Linked DNA regions of Homo sapiens: regions 1 and 3 are each linked to region 2. Evidence: fine-mapped expression QTL. A gene starts in region 2. Each other region holds a variant in brackets. All regions are shown on one strand. Distances are between the middles of the regions. Region 1 overlaps NIPBL (NIPBL cohesin loading factor). Region 2 holds the start of SLC1A3-AS1 (SLC1A3 antisense RNA 1). Region 3 overlaps NIPBL (NIPBL cohesin loading factor).

What was found. PIP is the estimated chance that this variant, and not a neighbour inherited with it, causes the effect. A credible set is the group of variants that fine-mapping cannot tell apart.
Region 1: its variant is the best candidate, but not a certain one, in a credible set for the expression of SLC1A3-AS1 in whole blood (INTERVAL, PIP 0.56).
Region 3: its variant is the best candidate, but not a certain one, in a credible set for the expression of SLC1A3-AS1 in whole blood (INTERVAL, PIP 0.84).

The regions. Positions count from the first base shown.
Region 1 is chr5:36,922,232-36,926,479 of GRCh38, reverse strand. The region is part of intron 1 of NIPBL (NIPBL cohesin loading factor); the gene reads right to left. Among named protein-coding and RNA genes, the nearest start is that of NIPBL, 48 kb to the right of the region's middle. The variant TTCAG/G (reference allele first, on the strand shown) is at 2,175.
Region 2 is chr5:36,722,982-36,727,229 of GRCh38, reverse strand. It overlaps SLC1A3-AS1 (SLC1A3 antisense RNA 1), which reads left to right and starts at 2,042. Exons shown (of 2, transcript XR_007058736.1): 1 at 2,042-2,116. RefSeq lists enhancers at 3,045-3,314, 3,355-3,404, 3,415-3,464.
Region 3 is chr5:37,051,650-37,055,897 of GRCh38, reverse strand. NIPBL (NIPBL cohesin loading factor) reads right to left here. Exons shown (of 47, transcript NM_133433.4): 41 at 4,012-4,119; 42 at 3,332-3,532. Among named protein-coding and RNA genes, the nearest start is that of NIPBL, 180 kb to the right of the region's middle. The variant G/A (reference allele first, on the strand shown) is at 1,963.

The DNA.
Region 1 (4,248 bases), 200 kb before region 2:
ATGCTACACATGATGTCTCCGCTGAATCGAGCCTTTTGGCTGTCTCTACCAAGGCGGCACTTATATGGGTAAAGCCATCTGGAACTATTCTGGCCAGCCCATCTACCAGCTGAATACCTCCAAGTAACCTCCATCACCACCACATGAACAAAGCCAAGCCCTGCCTAAATTCCTGACCCACAAAATCGTGAGACATAGGAAAATGGCTGTTATTTTAAAACCACACTAAGTATGGGGAGTAGTTTGTTACACAGCAACAGATAACTGGAACAGTCAGTAACATTTTTTTGTTTTGTTTTTAAATCAAACTGGCAACAAAGAAGTTCTCAAAGGTACATTTACAGTGTTCAAAAGTGGTAAAGAATTCACAGAGTGAGCCAAAGGAATTAAGTCAGGATATATGTTTATTCTCATATTCAGGAAGGTATTGCCATGGTAATGGAGAAACTACTGACGTGACTGAGTCATCAATGAATTAGACTTGAGAATGGGTACGAAAATGAGAAGAAAATATTCATAAATGATACCTAGCTAAATGAGCATAGCAGGAGGTTAAAACAAATCCATGACTTAGAAGTTTGGGAGACAGGGTATAGAATATTATGTTCTTGGTCTAGTTGGACAGAAATAAGTAAGAATGGAAAGCAGGAAATGTGAGTAGAATATAGGCAAATGAACAGACAATGGGAACTGTAAGTTACGTAGGATGGATATATGTTCTCTTAGCTCAGCCTCAAGAAGAAACAGCCTTCTAACAATATGCAATAGTGGCAAAAACAGGTTTTTAATTATAATTCTGCCACGTACTAGTTGAAAGACTTTAAGTTATTTACTTAGTCTCTTTGAGGGTTTCCTCAAATATAAAGTGAGGATAATAGTGCCTACCTCAGAGTTATTTTAAAAATTAATGAACTGGCTGGGCGCGGTGGCTCATGCCTTTAATACCAGAACTTTGGGAGGCCGAGGTGGATGGATCACCTGAGGTCGGGAGTTCGAGACCAACCTGGCAAACATGGTGAAACCCCGTCTCTACTAAAATACAAAATTAGCCGGTGTGGTGGTACATGCCTGTAATCCCAGCTACTCAGGAGGCAAAAGCAGGAGAATCACTTGAACCCAGGAGGCGGAGGTTGCAGTGCGCCGAGATCACGCCATTGCACACCAGCCTGGGCAACAAGAGTGAAAATCCATCTCAAAAAAAAAAAAAGTAATGAATTAATGTATGTAAAATAAGTGTAAAAGACAATAAATATTAAATTTGGAGATATGATATACTAGAAAAGAGTGTTTTAAAGTATTACTATCAATGCTATTAATAGATAGCATCACTTATTTGAGTACCTTCTATATGCCAAGCATTCTGCTAGATAACATTAATCTTCAGCAGATTCCTGTCAGACAGATATTGACCTCCCTACTTCATACTTATGAAATACCTGCATAAGTGGACAAAGTAACTGCTTAGTAGCATCGTAAAATATTTTCCTTTAAAAATACAATTATTGTTTCTTAACCTGATGACAGAATAAAAGATATATAAAATTTTACTGACAAAGATACTGGTATAATGGATGTAAGTAGTCAAAGAAAAAGGCCTTTAATAGAGGCCCCCAGGAATTATTATAGAAAATAAAAGCAAAATGGAAACGTCTGGGGTGGGGATAGGACAAGGAAATCTTAAAAGGGAATGTGAGATGAGAGTCTGAGGAAAAATCTATTTCTTGTATTAGCTAGACTGGAGATTTTCTGTCACTGTTGATAATAACAGCAGTTAGTGTCAGCTATGTACATTACTAGCTGCTTTACATTCATATCATCATTTAATTTTCATGGCAATCATCCAAAGCAGTTATCATTCATTTCATTAAAAATTTAGTGAGTACCTACAAGGTACCAGACATTGTGGATACACCTATACACAAGACAATACAGTGTTCCTGACCAAACCAGCTGGCAAACTATTATAGAAATGGAAGCCTTTTCAAAGAGGTTACAGTAATTTGCCTAAGTTCACACAGCTAATAAAGACCACAATCAGAATATGAATTCAAATCTTACTCCAGGCCTATGTTCTTAACCACTACACTTAATGACACAATAAAAAAATAAAAAATTCTGTAATGCTGACAAGCTACAAAACTATTTAAACTGATATAAAATTTTCTCAAGAAACA[TTCAG/G]TAACACACTAAACATTTTATTAATCATCCATAATTAATAATTTATTAAACAGTTATATTTAAATTTATTTCAATAATATTCCATGCTTACTGCAGTTGTAACATTTAAAGATCAAAAATTTGGATATTAGTTCAAGAGGAAAATAGCTGTTATCCAAAGTTAAGAGCTATATTCATTGAGTTCTATGTTATCTGATTTAGTTTGATTAATCACTTAAGCAATCATGTTAACAAATAAGAAAATCCTAAAGATAATAATAACAGATCTTAGTGGAAAGCAACAATGTGAGTGAACAAATTATAACAATGTCATCTATAGGACAATTAGTAGAATACAGATAACTTGGAACTTGCAAATATAATCCTTAACCACTTTAAAACAGGAATTCATTCACTCAAAAGTGCATCTTGCTCTATCCATTTATAAGACTAGATATTGCCAGGACTCAATTTGCAATTTTTATATCATATTATATATGAACTTTCTACAAATAGTAGTGAACATTTTCACAGCCTCAGGGTGTTGATTGGGCCTTAACACTTATTATTATCCCCTTAGAGTCTCATTTATATCAATCAGTTGGTATCTAATACAGACATTACACAGAAAGCCAAAACAGGTCAACCAAGACTACTTCTGTGACTGCAGAAAAAGATTCTTCTGGATATAAAATTTTTAAAGTAAGAGTATTTATCAGAATAACTAAATTGTAAAGTAAATAACCAAAGACCACATAATGTTTCAGGCCACAGAAAGAAGAATGTATATAAAAGCAGGAAACTGGTCACTTTCCATAAAGGACCTTAATAAGTGTTTTTAATAATAACTAACAACAATATTCAAAGATTACTCTAGTTATCAGATCAAGAGATATCAAGATAATGTCCTCAACTTATCCATGAAAGGAAAAAATATATATATATCTCAGAGAATAACATCATTGGCCCTGAGAAGTCAGCATTTTTTTGTTGTTGTTTGTTTTTGTTTTTTGTTTTGAGATGGAGTCTCGCTCTGTCATCTACGCTGGAGTGCAGTGGTGTGATCTCGGCTCACTGCAACCTCCACCTCCTGGGTTCAAGCGATTCTCCTGCCTCAGCCTCCCAAGTAGCTGGGACTACAGGTGCACGCCACCACACCCAGCTAATTTTTGTATTTTGTATTTTTAGTACAAAATTACAAAAATTTTGTAATTTTGTATGTTGGCCAGGATGGTTTTGATCTCTTGACCTCGTGATCCGCCCGCCTCGGCCTCCCAAAGTTCTGGGATTACAGGTGTGAGCCACCAGCCCTGGCCTAGAAGCCAGCTTTAATTGGTTTAGTTACAACAAATCTTTTCTTTCAAATGTATTTTTCTTTAACTTTGTTTACAGAGATAATACTGGAAAGGACCTTAAAGGTGGTAGAAAAGAAATCTGTAGTTCAAATCAGTTACCCTTTAACATTCCCTTTATCAAAGGTAAGGTAAAGAAAGGTAAACTAATTTTCCAAGGGTTTGCTTTTTGGCATTTATCTTCTCAACAAAATTGCGATGGTACATAAAATCATCAAGTTTAGGCATAACAACCCTAACAATTTAAATGTTTTATAAGTAATATAAGTACATGAACCTCAGAGTTCATCACTGCACAACTTCATAAAATGAGTAAGATAGTCAAATCCAGGACTTTCTAAAACAAAACCTGTGCTTTCTGCAGTAATACCAAATACCACCATTAGACAGCCAGAGTGATTCCAGAGAAATAAGTATCCAGTATGCTGGACATTTCCTACATTTCATACTAAGTTAAAAGTATAATACTCGACAATGGCCAAAAGAAAACTGACCCCTCAGTTTTGTTTTCTTCATGGCTCTTAAGGACTCAAAATACTTTTTCTATGAATATACTACTCAAGTGGGTAACCTCAGATGAGATTTCACCTATACTATGAATAGCATGATTTTTCTTATTGAAAAATCAAACTAATAGGTTTAGGGTAAGAGTATAAAAATTATGATAAAAATCCAATTTTTAAGAAATGGGTCAAAATTCAAGGTCATTATACAAAAAATAAGGAGGTGGAAAATGGGC
Region 2 (4,248 bases):
GGTGAATGGGATAGGAATAGCTCTATGAGCAGCTGAAGCTACTCCGTTGGTACCATCGGGACCATACTGTTCTTTTCATTTGGAATCCTGAAAATGGTGCATATATAAAGACCTTGAGGGCTTAGCAGGTGTTGGGGAAACCACCACATTACTGATCCTTCAAGAGACCAAGACATAAAAATAGTGCCTCTTATTTCTGGCCTTTTGGCTACTGTTACTTCTGTGTCATTGTCTCTTATTACCCTCACTTCTAGCCACACCAGTCTTATCACTGTTCCTTGGATGGGCCTCAGGGCCTTTGCACTGGCTGTTCTCTCTGCTTGGACCACTCTTCCTCAAGATAGCCACATGCCTCACTCCCTCACCTCCTGCACTCTGCTCAAAAGTCAACTTCGTAGGGAGTCCTGACTTGACCACCCTAATTTAAATTGCACTTCTGATTTCACTTACTTTGCTTTTTCTCTCCATAGTGATCACCTCTTAACATATTACAAAATTTTCTTAATTTTTTAATGTTTATTGCCTATCTCCTGTTTCACGCTCCTTCTTGCATCCCTGAATGTAAACTCTGAGAATAGTGAGGTATTTTTTGTCCTTTTTGTTCAATAACAAACACTCAGTGCCTAGAATAATGCCTTACAGGAGTGCTTTATAAGCATTTGTTGAATGAATGAATGAACTAATGAATGAAGTGTAATACAAGGGGCAAAGGATTTGGCATCCTTTGGTCATGGAGTGCTGCTCAGATATGTACTATAGAAACCATTCTGAAGCATTTCAAAAGACATCCAGTTTCTCCTCTGTATACTGCAAAATCTTGGGCTTAGGTTCTGGCATTTAGTCTATGACAAATGATTGCTGGCAAAAGTTGAATGAAGCAGTTAAGAGTATGGGTTTGCAGTAAGATCCAGGTTCAAATTTACACCTTTCCATGTACTACCTGTGTGACTTTGGTGAAATTATCTTCTCCAGGCCTTAGGGTGAAATGTATGTGAGAATGCATGAAGCCTGCCACGTGGTTAATATTAAGAGTGATAACTCATATTATCATTGATGGAGGTGAATGAAAGAAATGGAGTAACACGCTTTTAAAACACAGTTTCCCCTCCATTATCATTTCAACCACTTTAGATGAAAATATTGAGGGATACATCCACAATTTCTAGTTAATTAAAAAATATCAGGAGGTCTTAGTAGATTCTAGATTTTTCCTTCAATGAAATGAGTTGTTAAATAAAAGGCCTCCATAAGTACAGGGTCTTGTCGTTGGGCTCTATCTTATGAGCGGTGGATCTGCCTCCCAGGAAGGTAGGCAGACACCAGTGAGGCATCTGGTGCTTGGGATGCAGCGAGTGGAGCCAAGCAGAGAATGATCAGATCCGTTTGCCTGGAATTTCTGCATTTGCTGCCCCAAACATCTGGAGCCAGGCTACCCAGTGCAGATGGAAAATAGCAAAATGCAAATTCCCTGGGTTCAGCTGAGGGAAGCCAAGGCAGACAGAGTCTGAGAAGGCGGATGAAAGGTGAGCCAAAACAAAAGCCCTGGCGGGTGGTGGGGCAGCGTTTTATCTAGAGCCTACGGCCCCCGGTAAGGACAGGAGATGAGAGAAGGGACCTTAGAGCTACTTGGGCCACCTTCATGTTCGTACTCATCCCCCTCCTTAACAGCCTGAAAGGGAGCCTGCTGGGCTTACGGCAGCCTCCCTGTCCTCTTCCTGATGCCATGCCTGCTCCATTGCTTTGCTTCTTCTGGATCCTGTTTCGCCCTCTCCCTCAAGAAGGAGATCCTGAAATAGATCCTGAGTCAATGACTCAGGTGCAAGTGCTTTATTAAAGAAAGGCTCCCAGAAGAAATCTACTTGCACCCGAATCATTGACTCAGGATCTCCTTCTGGGAGAATCCAAGCCAAGACAAGACAGACAACCCAACCAACTGAGCTGCTCACAGCTTCAACTGCTACAACCCTGGAAAGGATTCTGATTGGCTAGCTAAGGGTCACATGCCCAAATGGGCCTTTGATTGGCAGCTGTTGCTTCCTTCCTACTCCCTCCCACACACCCAGGAGCTCCAGCCTGTTATGGGATGGGCATCCTACCAGGAACCAAGGATGCTAAGGTAAGCAGTCCTTGCCCTCATAGGTTTACTTATACTTAAGGGGAGAGAACCGTTAGTCAAATCACCCCACATACAGATCTTTACACACTATGAAGGACAAGCACAGGGTGCAGTCAGTGGGAGGGGCCCAGAACGGGAAGTGCCATGCTGGCTGCTGCTGTGTGGAATGGGCTGTAAAGAGAGCAAGAGTGAAAGCCACAGCAGGGGAGCTGGTCAGAGATGGCAGTGGCTTTATTAGAGTGGTGGCCCTGGAGTTGGAGACAGGTGGGAAAAACTCAAGAGCCCTCTAAGGAACCGACCCATGGCAGTCCATCGCCACCAAGTCCCTCTTACCACTCTAGGTTTAAAGAAACCCAAAAAACAAAACTACGTTGCAACTGCACTGCTACACCAGGAAACCTAAGGGGGAACAAAAGAAAACTTAGTAGTGCCCTCTAGGCTGAAGATTTGACCTATTATTTACTAACCTTTCCCTCCCTCTTCCTTATTTTCAACAAATCTCCTGCCATCCATTTTGAATTCTTCTCTAAATAGAGAAAGCTTTCTTTCTCAGCTTCATTTAAATGTCCACCATGGTATTTACCCATGTTTTCTTGATTTTTATTTCTTTTTGGGGCGGGTATCTAAAAGATAATCTGATCCCTGTTCCTGATTCTGTAGGTGACAGAGAGAAGTGGTTTTCTCATTTTTTTGTGTGTGAAATTATTCGCATATGAGGAAAAGATAGCTCAAAAATAGAAGCTCTTTCATTATCTCTCCACAATGTAGTGTGGCCCCAAGTGACTATTTTGTGGAGACACGGTAATTTGGGGTGGCTAAATCATTACCCCGAGGTGTGTCAGATGCTGCCAAGACCTCCTTCATTCATGTGGCCAAGACTGTGGGCTTCCTGGCTGGGGAGGCAGAGGCCCTGCTCTTCTGCTGCTAACCTTGGGGTCAGCGAGCCCTGATCCACACTTCCTCTGGGCAACATCAATGGGGCTGCTGAACATATTGAGCCAGACTTGTTTCCAAGAGATAGAAGGAACTAGAGCATTGGGGAAAGTCCCAAGTAACTCTAGCCCTCAGCCACCTGCTGTGGCTGAAGATGAAGTCTCTGCAGCTTCAAGAATCCAACTGGCTGGTGCACATTGTTCTCATTGGCTAGATCATTCCTCCATGTAGCACTTCACTAAACTCATTAACAAATATTTACAAATGACATTGCTTTTTGGGGTCATGTATATTTCAGTCTTCAGAATCCATCAGGCACTCAAATCCCTTGGCAGTTCTAGTTCTCTCCCCTAGACATGCCTCTGCCCCCTACTACTCAGTTCCTTTTATTTCTACCATTCGTTTTTATTTTCTATTTCATTTCTTTACTTTTTAGAGACAAGGTCTCTGTCACCCAGGTTGGAGTGCAGTGGCATGATCATAGCTCACTGCAGCCTCAAACCCTTGGACTCAAGTGATCCTCCTGCCTCGGCCTCCTGAGTAGCTGAGACTACAGGTGTGTTCCACCACATCTGGCTAACTTTTGTATTTTTTGTCAAGATGGGGGTCTTGCTATGTTGCCCAGGCTGATTTCAAACTCCTGACCTCAAGCTGTCCTCCAGCCATGGCCTCCCAAAGTGCTGCCTACCATTATAGGCTGCCATGCCTGGCCCTTATTTTTTTTAAAAAATGATCTTCTCCCTTCTATGTAATTCCTATTCTACCTGTATTATTCTTCTTTCCCTGTATTATGCTCGTCCCTTGCTCTTCTTCTCCTCTCCCTTTCATTTTAACCACTCTTCCATCTCCTGCTACTGCATGTGAATCAGATTTGCCCTCCAAATACCGTGTGTATCACCATCAGTTCAGTGGCAGAGGCTGTTCTTGCGCTGGCTTGGAAGATGACAGTTCCCAAAGTATTCCCCATAGAGGCTGATCGGTCTGACCCAGCTAATGCTACCAGTTAAAATAATCCTGGCTCAGGGCCCATGAGACTCACCAGTCCTTATGTGGTATTGGAAAGTGAAACTGATTTGGCAGCCTCATTAGATTATAATCAGCTCGAATCTTCCCTTCTGCCTTCTCAGAGCATCACATGTGTCCCCAGGAACAGCAGAGGGGAAAAACCACCTCTCCTCGCCCGCTTTCTGTATTTCTTC
Region 3 (4,248 bases), 330 kb before region 2:
CTAGGAGTATAGGTGCATACCACCAGGCCTGTCCAGTTTTTATTTTTTAATTTTTGTAGAGATAGGGTCTCACTATGTTGCCCAGGCTGGTATGGAACTCCTGGGCTCAAGCTATCATCTGCCTTGGGTGCTGGGATTACAAGCATGAGTCATCTCACCTGGCCCTCCCTTTTCAATTACAATCTGCTTTTGTCCCTCACTGCTTGACTGTTTTTGTCCACGAAGTTCACCATTCTACTCTATTTTTCACTTCTTACTCTCCTTGACTTCTCAGTAGCATCTGACTATTACCCACACTTTCCTTCATGAAATCTTCTTCCTAAGTTTTCTCTTCCTACCTCTTTGACTACTCCCTTTTTATGTACTCCTCAAGCCAACTCCTTTGCAATCTGACTTTGGCAACAATCCTATTATTGTTTCAGGTGCTCAAGATAAAAATATTCCAGTTGTCCACTAACTATTCTTTTCACACAGTCTCATTTAATTCTTTCCTCAACTTTCTTTTCTTTTCTACTATCCATTCTTTTTTTTTTTTTTTTTTACTGTTGAGATGGAGTCTCGCTCTGTCGCTCAGCTGGAGTGCAGTGGTGCGATCTCAGCTCACTGCCAATCTCTGCTGCCCAGGTTCAAGTGATTCTCATGCCTCAGCCTCCCAAGTAGCTGGGACTACAGGTGCGCGCCATCATGCCTGGCTAATTTTTTTGTATTTTCAGGAGAGAGAGGATTTTGCCATGTTGGCCAGGCTGTTCTCGAACTCCTGACCTCAGGTGATCCATCTGCCTCGGCCTCCCCAAATGCTGGGGTTACAGGCATGAGGCACCACACCCAGCCTCTACTATCCATTCTTTTTCTCCCCTACTGTTATCATAGTAATTTATTATTACCTCCAGTGTGACCACAATGCTAAAAAAATTCATCTTCCTAAACTGCTCTTTGGCAATTGTCCTCATTATTTTATTCACACACTTACAATGTTTTTTTTTTTGCCATCTACAGGATCCTCTATATATTATTCCTCATTATGACCTTTCTGCCCCAGTCAAATAACAAACTATTCATTATTTCCCACACATTCTTATCTTTGTATTTTTAATTAATTTTTTGGCCCTGACTGGAACATCTTCCTTCCCTGGTTTATATAGCAGATCCCTCTCATTCTATCCCTCTGGGCCTTCAGGCATTTGTTCCTTCTCTGACATTCTTTGTTGGAGGTAGTCAGAAGAAAGCATTGCATTGTGAGAGCTGGGTTTCCAGTTTAGCATTTCAAATGCTGAGATGACAAAACATCTAGTCAATGACATAAAGCAGGCAGTGAAATCACATAGAAATGAAGTTCTTTTGGACAGAAACAAGGACTGGAACAATATTATCAACACAAACCATCAGGGCACTCAGGATATACTAACCGTAATCACTATTAATTTTGTATCCTATCCCCACAGCTGGAGGGAAAATCCTTTCAGGGCAAAAGCACTACATTATATCATCTGGCACTCCTCGTATAGTGTCCTATACACAATGCAAACTTAATACTGATAATGATATGATGATAATGTTGATGATAAATTTCATGTAGTACTTGAAGAGGTCTAGTAAGATATCTGCACTATGGTAATTATAATTTTGCTTTATTGCAAAAATCTGCTGTCAGGCTAACAAGTAATTAAAGTATTTCTTTTGTTCTTTTTTTTTTTTTTTTTTTGAGACGGAGTCTCGCTCTGTCGGCCAGGCTGGAATGCAGTGGCGTGATCTCAGCTCACTGCAACCTCTGCCTCCTGGGTTCAAGCAATTCTCCTGCCTCAGCCTCCTGAGTAGCTGGGATTACAGGCGCGTGCCACCACGCCCGGCTAATTTTTATATTTTTAGTAGAGATGGGGTTTCACCATGTTGGTCAGGCTGGTCTCGAACTCCTGACCTTGTGATCCACCTGCCTTGGCCTCCCAAAGCGCTGGGATTACAGGC[G/A]TGAGTCACCACTCCTGGCCTCTTTTGTTCTTTTAAAAGTTGCTATACACATAGGTTCATGCGTGCTCTGTGTGGGCAGAAACCATATCTGTTTTTACTATTTTATGCTCGTTAAACTTCTTAGCGCAATGGCTGGTACATAGCAGATGCAGAATAAATACTGTGTGAAATAAATAAATTAAAAGGTAAACTTTAAAGAATATTCAGTTTTCTTGGCCTATGGTCCTGGCCAATGCAACTAGTGCAACAGCCAGAAGTGTCAAAATTGTAATTATGGTAATCTCCCCAATTGCTGTTTTGCTTTCCATAGTTTCAGTTACCCTTGGTCAACCATAGTCCAAAAATAGGTGAGTAAACTACAACAGGGTATTTTGAGAGAGAGAGAAAAGCAAGATCCCATTCACATAACTTTTATTACAGTATATTGTTTTAATTGTTCTATTTTATTATTATGTTAATCTCTTACTGTGACTAATTTATAAATTAAAACTTTAACATAGGTTTGTATGTATTGGAAAAACCAGTACAGTCATGTGCCACATAACATGTTTCAGTCAATTACAAACTATATATATGATGATGGTCCCATAAGATTATCCTATCATATTTTTACTGTACCTTTTCTATGTTTAGATATGTTTAGGTACATGAATACTTACCATTGTGTTATAGTTATCTACAGTATTCAGTACAGTAACATGCTGTACAGGTTTGTAGCCCAGGAACAATATAGCCTAGGTAGGCTACAACATCTAGGTTTGTGTAAGTAAGATGTTCACCCCACAAAGAAATCGCCTAACTATGCATTTCTCCAAATGTATCCCTGTCATTAAGTGATGCATGACTGTATATATAATAATTAGTACTATCCATGGTTTCATGCATCCACTGGGGGTCATGAAATGTATCTTTAATGATAAGGGAGGACTACTATACACAAAAGTGGACTACTATACAGAAAAGTGACTTCCCTTCATTAAGGGAAATCAAGTTGAACAACTAGGGATCTCAATAGCCAAAAACCTAGAACAGTTATTCTCTAACAATATTTGAGGTAATCGGTTCCCAAAGCGATTAGTTTAGTGATGTTGCTTATTTAAAGATACGCTTACAGAAACTGTTATCAAAGTTTATAGGATATTCAGTATGGAGGCAAAATTATACATTATTCCTCATTACACTTATTCTCATACAAAATTTCCCCTTCACTTCTGACTGTGTACTTTGTAAATAACTTAGAAGATTAAGAAAACACTTAATGAAGTTACTATCATATACTAATAAAATGGTAATATTTAAAAAATGACTACTTTATCCATAAAATTTCTAGAGCACTTATTTTCTTAAAATAATAAGTTTTTGTGCTTACTGCTGTGTCATCAAAGAGGTTGAGTAAAGAAATAAGAAAGGCTCGTCTGTGTTGGCGGTTTCCACGGATCATGGAGTAAAGGTGTGAACACAAAGCGCTAGAGGACTCGTCTTGTCTGAAACCCCTTACAGGATCTTTTAGGCATGTGTTGATTGCCTGTTGTACCTGGTAAGACATCTTCATACCAGCCACTGCTTTCATCTGAAATCAATAAAAGTCTCATTTTTGTCAGGGAAATTAAAAGACACAAATTAAAAATATACTTAGAGCATTACATTCTGAGGCTAGCTTCATTGTTTTTTTTTAATTAAAATAATACGAATCACAGAATGAAGTGCTAGAAGGAACATTAGAGATTATCTCTTACAATTCCCTCATTTCAAAGAAGAAAAAAAAAATGAGGCCCAGGAGAGTCACTGCAGCCAAGTTCACATAGTAAGATATAAAATCCAGGTTTCCTGATTTTTAGTCTGGTGTGCTTGGTACTGTCACCTCTAGCCCAACCTTAACTTTAGACTAGAATAAACACCTTGGAAGACTAACTTAGTTGCATGTTTAGAAGATAGGTACTAAGTAAGACATTTTATTCCAATTATGAATGTGGGCAGAGCATTTATCAAAGAAATGCTTTACTCAAGAAAAATGTTTAAATTTAGGTTATAAAATGTTAAAATACATACATGAATGAATCCAGCATATTTTTTGTCTATTTCCACAAGTTGCTGATCAGCCTTGTTCCGCATAGCAGGTTCTGGGTCTGTGCCCATAGCAATTAAATATGGCACACACTGGAAATAAAAAAAAAAATTACGAGATATCATGGTAGTAAAAATTCTCTATTTAGACATATGTCAAAACTTTTCATATATCTGAGATATATGAATTTAACCTTATAGGCCTTCCTATAAAGTCTATGT